Linked DNA regions of Homo sapiens. The protein of the gene in region 2 interacts with the protein of the main gene of each other region in a biochemical or structural test. Each region holds a gene or a part of one and is shown on either strand. Other genes may lie near its edges.

Region 1 (3,749 bases), on a different chromosome or scaffold from region 2:
TTTTGCTTTCTCTTGATTTATTGACCTTTCGTTTCCTTTTGTCTCATTAACTGATTTTTAAAACATCAGTAAGTCAGTGATTGGTTCCACAACTCTCATGCCCCTCTGCCCCCAAATGCAAACAGTATTTTTTTTTTTTTTTGAGACGGAGTCTCGCTCTGTTGCCCAGGCTGAAGTGCAGTGGCGCGATCTCTGCTCACTGCAAGCTCCGCCCCCCGGGTTCATGCCATTCTCCAGCCTCAGCCTCCTGAGTAGCTGGGACTACAGGTGCCCACCACCACGCCCGGCTGATGTTTCTGTATTTTTAGTAGAGACGGGGTTTCACAGTGTTCGCCAGGATGGTCTCGATCTCCTGACCTCATGATCCGCCCGCCTCGGTCTGCAAACAGTATTTTTAAGACTTACTGGCAAATAGCATCTTACCAGGCGAGATCTCTCCATGTGTTCTGTTTCATCAAAGAAATTAAATCAATAGTAAAATGAAGCAAGTACTTAACAAGGAAAATAATGCTGGTAATAGTAATAGCTAATGCTAATTGAGCATGCACTATGTGCCAGACTCGGTGCTCAGAACTTAACATAGCATTCTCTCAGTACTTACACAACTCCATGAAGTTTCTATGAGAAGGCTTATACTTGTTAAGTAATTCGTCCAAGGTCACCCAGTGAGGATATGGTACAGTTGGAATTGTATCTAGGCAGTTCTGACCCCAAGAGCCCAAGGCGCCCCTGGTCCTATCTCATAGTTGATGGGCCCATTGCCCTGGATCACAGACTTTCCACTACTCTTATAATGCCTTTTCTAGAACTCTCCTAATGTTTTAAACTTCCAGTCCTCCCTACAGTCTTTCTAAATAGATAATCTTCTTTTCTACTTGACTGAGCTCGCTGATGTCTAAAAAGAGCTCCCTGCCTTCTGTTTTGTCCCCCTCTCCCTACGCCATCTCATCTCTTTTCTCTTATTTCAGTGGAAAAGGTTCCCTTCCTTTTTCCCCCTTTCATTTCTTAGAGATAAACCTAGATTAATGGTTTTTACTAGGGAGAGATTTTGTAATCTAGGAAGCATTTGGCAATGTCTGGAGACTTTGATTGTGACTCTGGAGGGAGGATGCTACTGGAATGTAGTGCGTAGAAGCCGGGAATGCTGCTAAACATCCTGCAGTGTACAGGAGTAAGCCCCTCTAAACAGAGTTATGTGTAAATTGTATAAAATAGTGCTGAGCTTGACAAACTCTGATCTAGATGATGTCTCTCTTCTCTTTCTATTATGTCCCTTCTCCTTAGTCCTAGTCTAACCCCCAGACACCTTCACTGTCTTCTCCCTTGCTACTCACATTATGGTCCACAGACCAGCAGCATTCACATCCCCTAGGATTTAGACATGCAGAAAGTTGAGTGTGCTAGAGCCAGCTTGCTCTGCCTCTCCAGCTGATTTTGTACATCTCTTTCCAGCTCTGTGTTCAATGACCTCGTGTTGATAACTGTGCCAAGGTGGGAATATTTATACCAAGGAAACAAGCATACACTGCCAATCAGCATACCACTGCCTGTACCCCCACTCTAGACCTATTCAATCAGTTTCTGCCTTTTGACAAGATTCTTGGGTGATTCATTTGCATATTACATTTTGAATTTGCATTTTCCATTTTACCGTGCACTTGTCCTCTATCTTGAAACCAAATAACAACAACAAAAGTGTCTATTGCCCAGTCCAGCTGTTGTCTCCACCTTCCTCCTCTTGTTTGCTTTTGGAACAAAGTTTCTAACCCCACCTGTTTCATTTCTAAAACATTTTTCCAGTGACAATGTATTCAGACTCAATATACAAAACTTGGAAAAGACAGACTTGAGCAAGACTAACTCTTAGCTGACAGGAGATTGAGGAAGGTTGGTTCCCAGATTCTGCTACAGAGCTTAAGGTGGCAATAACAGCTTCTGCAAAAGCCAAATAATGAGATGGCCGTGTGGACCAGTCTGGGCTCCAGCAAATGGCTGATTGTTCAGAGGCCTGCAGAGGGACTGACTAGGCAGCAGCAGGTTAGGTTGAAAGGCAGTGAGTGGTTTTATGTAATCAGAATCTGCTCAGCAGCCTACTTTGCCAAGGCAGGATCTCTCCCTCTGTCACCCAGACTGGGGTGCAGCGATGTGATTATAGCTCACTTTGGCCTTGACCTCCTAGGCTCAAGCGATCCTCCCACCTCAGCCTCCTGAGTAGCTGGGACCACAGGCGTGCATCACCGCACTTGGCTGTTTTTTTAATTTTTTATAGAGACGAGGTCTTGCTATGTTGCCCAGGCTGGTCTTGAACTCCTGGGCTCAAGCAGTCCTCCTGCCTTGGCCTCCCAAAGTGTTGGGATTACAGGCATGAGCCACCACACCTGGCCCCCTCATACTTTTATTATTTTATGCTTTTATGATCCCTCATTACCACTTTTTTGCTGTTACTTTTTTCTTGTTTTGTTTTTTGAGACGGAGTTTCGCTCTTGTTGCCCAGGGTGGAGTGCATTGGCACGATCTTGGCTCACTGCATCCTCCGCCTCCTGGGTTCAAGTGATTCTCCTGCCTCAGCCTCCCGAGTGGCTGGGATTACAGGCATGCACCACCATGCCCAGCTAATTTTGTATTTTTAGTAGAGACAGGGTTTCTCCATGTTTGTCAGGTTGGTCTTGAACTCCTGACCCCAGGTGATCTGCCCACCTCAGCCTCCCAAAGTGCTGGGATTACAGGCGTGAACACCTGGCTCCAAATCTACATTTCTAATCCTGAGTTGCAAATGACTTCTATACTCTGTTTCCCAGTGCTTTTTGAACAGGTCTGCTTGAATATCAACCTCCTTGGCTATAAACGTTTGCTTCATACTTATTTTCCCAGGGTTGTTATACTAGGCATGGGAATGTACACTTGTATTACTCGTGTCTGCCATATGCTATGTACCACCCTAAGCACTTTTCCATACATTTTTATTTACAAAAACCCAGCAAGGTGTGAACTATTACCCTATTACTGATGAGGAAACTGAGATGTCTTGTTTGTTTTTTGAGATAGGGTTTCACTCTGTCACCCAAGCTGGAGTGTGGTGACACCGTCAAGGCTCACTGCAGCCTTGACCACCCAGACCCAAGCAATCCTCAGACACTTGAGTAGCTGGGACCACAGGTATGCACCACCACACCTGGCTACTTTTGTTTTATTTTATTTTTTGAGACGGACCGCAGTCTGTTGCCCAGGATGGAGTACAGTGGCGTGAGATCAGCTCACTGTAACCCCCGCCTTCCGGGTTCTATTGATTCTTCTGCCTCTGCCTCCCAAGTAGCTGGGATTACAGGCACATGCCACCACGCCTAATTTTTGTATTTTTAGTAGAGACGGGGTTTCACCATGTTGGCCAGGCTGGTCTTGAACACCTGACCTCCGGTGATCCGTCTGCCTTGGCCTCCCAAAGTGCTGGGATTATAGGCGTGAGCCACCGAACCCAGCCTGTGGTTAATTTTAAAAGTTTTTTTAGCAATGGGGTCTCTCTGTGTTGCCCAGGCTGGTCTCAAACTTATGAACCAAGTCATCCTGCCTCAGCCTCCAAAAGTGCTGGGATTACAGGCATGAGCCACCGTGCCTGACCTCAGATGTTAGTATGCCTTATAAGGGCCTCATATGAGATTTATTTTATTTATTCCTTTTCTTTCTTTTGTCTTTTTTTTTTTTTTTTGAGACATGGTCTTACTCTGTCACCTAGGCTGGAGTAGTGCAGTGGC
Region 2 (3,749 bases):
GAGTTCCAGGTCCATTGTGTTCTGGGCACTGCCTGAATTTTACTGTGCAAGCTTCAGGCCCTGGGAAGGCCTCTCTGCACTGGCTTGAGTCAGAATAATATTGTTGAGACTTTAGCCCCAGCCAAGCACGGTAGTTAGAATAATTTCCTAAAATATATCTGTTAACAATAAGCCTATTTATTCTCTTAAAAATAAAGCTGCCTTATGATTTCCTTTTTTTTTTTTTCGTTTCTTTTTTCTTTTCCTTTTTTTTTTGAGACAGAGTCTCACTCTGTCTCCCAGGCTGGAGTACAACCTCTGCCTCCCAGGTTCAAGCAATTCTCGTGCCTCAGCCTCCCAAGTAGCTGTGATTACAGGCACATGCCATCACACCTGGCTAATTTTTGTATTTTTAGTAGAGACAGGGTTTCACCATGTTGTCCAGGCTGGTCTCGAACTCCTGGCCTCAAGTGATCTGCCCACCTTGGCCTCCCAACCTTATGATTTTCATATATTAATATTTCTAACCTGACCACAGTCACTTTTTTGCTTTTTTGTTTGAGAACAGGAAACATATTTTTAAAAGTCATATTTAAGAGCATGTAGAATAAAATGAAATTGAATAGAAATGGGTCATTCGACAGCAGAACTCCAGCTTTGTGCTTGGAATTCCTGTTTCAACACTTACCAACAAGCCATTCAACCTTTCTGCCTCAGTTTCCTCATCTGTAAAGTGGAAATAACATCAGCATCTCACAGCACTTCAGGGGCCAAAGAAATGGTAGGGAATTCCATTCTAGGTCTGGACCAGCACATTTCTTGGCAGAAGAGTAGCAAAAGCACTTAGTTGAAAGCTCTTTTGGGAGCGAAGAGCGCTAAACAAATAGCTGTAGGGTTGTTAAGACCGAGGCTGATAGAGTTGTTATCACTCCCCGTGCTGCTTAGTGACACATTATTTGACTCAGGGGTTGTAAGATAGAATTACTGTCTGTGTTGAGGTATGACAGGAATCCCTCCCACTCAGATTTCCAGAGGTCTCTATAGACCTTCTGTCTATAGCTTGTAGACTAAACCTTGGAATTCTTGGGACCCAGATCCAGGAACTCCCAGAATCATGTACTTTTGAGCATTTGCAGAGGCCAAGGTTCCCCACAGCTCTGTGGGACCCCAAGACCCGGTTCCCTTTGCTCAGCAGTCACCTTTGTGTTTGCCCTGTGCTGCAGCGAAATGCTCTGCCCGGGTAGTGCCTGGAGGTGGGGACCCAGCCGCTCCTGCGAGGCCTGAAGGGCTGACTCCTGCACAGCGATGATGCGGCAGCTGAAGATCGGGTATTGCCACACTGAACTCGCTCACCAAGATGTCGTGGGATTAATGCCGAATGCTTACGGAGACAGTTGTTTCTCCAGAGGAGGCATGCCTTGATTCAGCACTGTGGCATGATGGCCTTCTCTTATCCTTTCTGCTTTAAAAACTTGTGTTTATTGGAGACGAAGGAGAAACAAGGTCCTTCCCAGTTCCAGCATCAACCTCGCCTCCAGGAAGTCTTCCCTGAGCCCTTATTCATGCTGGACAAAATGTCGTTAGCACCCCATGTCATGCCAACATTGTCAGTGCAGCTGGCTCCTCTCCACGAGCTTCTTGAGAGCGGAAGCTGTGGACTAGGGCAGGGACTGGTGCACGGCAGGACCTGAAGTGAACTCCCCAGTCCTTGACACACATCAGCCTGCTTATTTCTCAGCCTTATTGGACAGGCTTGTCCTCTGCCTTCATGTTCTTAAAGGGAAAAACTGAGGCACAGAGAATTTAGTCACTTACCCAGAGTGACACAGCCAGGGGGTTTAAGCCCAGGTCTTTCTCATTCTTGAGCCTGCAATTCTGTCAGTAGGCCATCCAGCTCCCCTTGGGAGGGCTATTTGGTTCATGCCTCTACCATCAGAGTCTATCTCCTCAGTGAACTCAGACCTTGTTTGACATGGCTCACTCTGGGATCCATCCCACTGAAGTGAAGGTGGGCGCCTGCTCTGCAGCTGAGTGTGTGGTTAAGTCCATCAGACATTCTCAGCATGCTCTCATGCACTGACTAAAACCATGATGTCATCAGGAAGTCCTCCCCACCTCACTCTCCACTTCCCTCTCCACTGCTTATTCACTGTCTGGCTATGAAAGTTAAGGCCTTTGCTGGGTAGAATGGAAGAGACCAAGGCCAGGCAGTCCAAAGCAGATATTCAGGGTTATGTTTTAAGGGAGGGTCATCCCAGCAACCTACTTGGAGTTGCATTTCAATGTCATGGAAGCCAAAGTTATGATACTTGGCTTTTCTAGTCACAAAAGTGTCTGTATCCTCTTCATGATCTTAGCTGCTTTTTTTCATACTTACAGACATAATTCACCAGGCACGGTGGCTCATGCCTGTAATCCCAGCACTTTGGGAGGCCAAGGCAGGTGGATCACTTGAGCTCAGGAGTTCAGGACCAGCCTGGGAAACATGGTGAAACTCTGTCTCTACCAAAAATTTTTTAAAAATTAGCCAGGCGTGATATTGTGCACCTGTGGGCCCAGCTACTCAGGAGGCTGAGGTGGGAGGATTGCTTGAGCCTCAGAGGCAGAGGTCACAGTAAGCAGAGATAGTGCCACTCCAGTCTGGGTGACAGAATGAGACCCTGTCAAAAAAAGAAAGAGGAAAGAGGAGAGAAAGAAAGAAAGAAAGAAAGAGAGAGAGAGAGAGAGAGGGAGGGAGGGGGAGGAGGGAGGGAGGGAAGGAAGGAGAAAGGAGGAGGGGGAGGGAAGGAAAGAAGGAAGGAAGAAGAGAGGAGGAGGAAGGAGAAGAGAGGAGGGCGGGGAGGGAGGGAAGGAAGGAAGGCAGGAAGGAAGGAAGAAAGGAAGGAGAATTCGCTTTGAGACTTCACAGCGTAGGGGGACAGGCTGGGAAAAAAATACAGATTTTTAAACTAGTGTAAAACATTTCTCCAGCCTTGCCCTAATGCAAAGCCAAATCATCAAAATGATGCATACCTGGGCCAAATCACCCTGATCCTCTTTCATATAATTGCCTTTCTGTAATTATGATTTAACACATCATGTACCTGAGTATGTAGGGCACTTTTTTTTTGTTTGTTTTGTTTTGTTTTGAGACAGAGTCTTGCTCTGTTGCCCAGGCTGGAGTGCAATGGTGCAATCTTGGCTCACCGCAACCCCCACCTCCTGGATTCAAGTGATTTTCCTGCCTCAGCCTCACGAGTAGCTGGGATTACAGGCATGCGCCACCACGCCTGGCTAATTTTTGTATTTTTAGTAAAGATAGGGTTTCGCCATGTTGGCCAGGCTGGTCTCAAACTCCTGACCTCATGTGATCCACCTGCCTCGGCCTCCCAAAGTGCTGAAATTACAGGTGTGAGCCACCGTGCCTGGCCATATTTTAATATTTTAAAAATAAATACTGTTATTAAGCATATTATATTTCATTGATTAATACCCCTCTAATGTAAAAACTCCTTGATCCACAGATCAGGGCCAAGAAATACTTTCTTTCATGTTGGACTGTTGGGCTTCCTACCACTAGACAAATTGGAGCTCCCATGACCAACTTTCTTTCCTTCTGGTTTGCATCTTTACTGTGGTTTGCACATTTGTTGTTTTTGGTCTTAATATCCTGTGCTTTATGGAGAGCTGTCTCAGATCACTGGGCCAGAGCTCTGTGTGGGCAGGAACCATGTATTTGTATTTCACAGTTGCATGCTTAGAACCTAGCATAGGGCTGATCCCTAGAAGAG

Evidence for each region. The genes of interacting proteins can lie anywhere in the genome.
Region 1: of the proteins of NSMCE2 (region 2) and USP28, one has a biochemical effect on the other in vitro, tested with the Homo sapiens proteins (one study listed by BioGRID).

Annotation. Positions count from the first base shown.
Region 1 is NC_000011.10:113,868,880-113,872,628, reverse strand, and holds part of USP28 (ubiquitin carboxyl-terminal hydrolase 28), read left to right. Parts: intron 1-3,749. UniProt on the Homo sapiens protein: Deubiquitinase involved in DNA damage response checkpoint and MYC proto-oncogene stability. Involved in DNA damage induced apoptosis by specifically deubiquitinating proteins of the DNA damage pathway such as CLSPN.
Region 2 is NC_000008.11:125,360,855-125,364,603, forward strand, and holds part of NSMCE2 (E3 SUMO-protein ligase NSE2), read left to right. Parts: intron 1-1,202; coding exon of another isoform or gene 1,203-1,263; exon of another isoform or gene 1,264-2,700; intron 2,701-3,749. UniProt on the Homo sapiens protein: E3 SUMO-protein ligase component of the SMC5-SMC6 complex, a complex involved in DNA double-strand break repair by homologous recombination. Is not be required for the stability of the complex.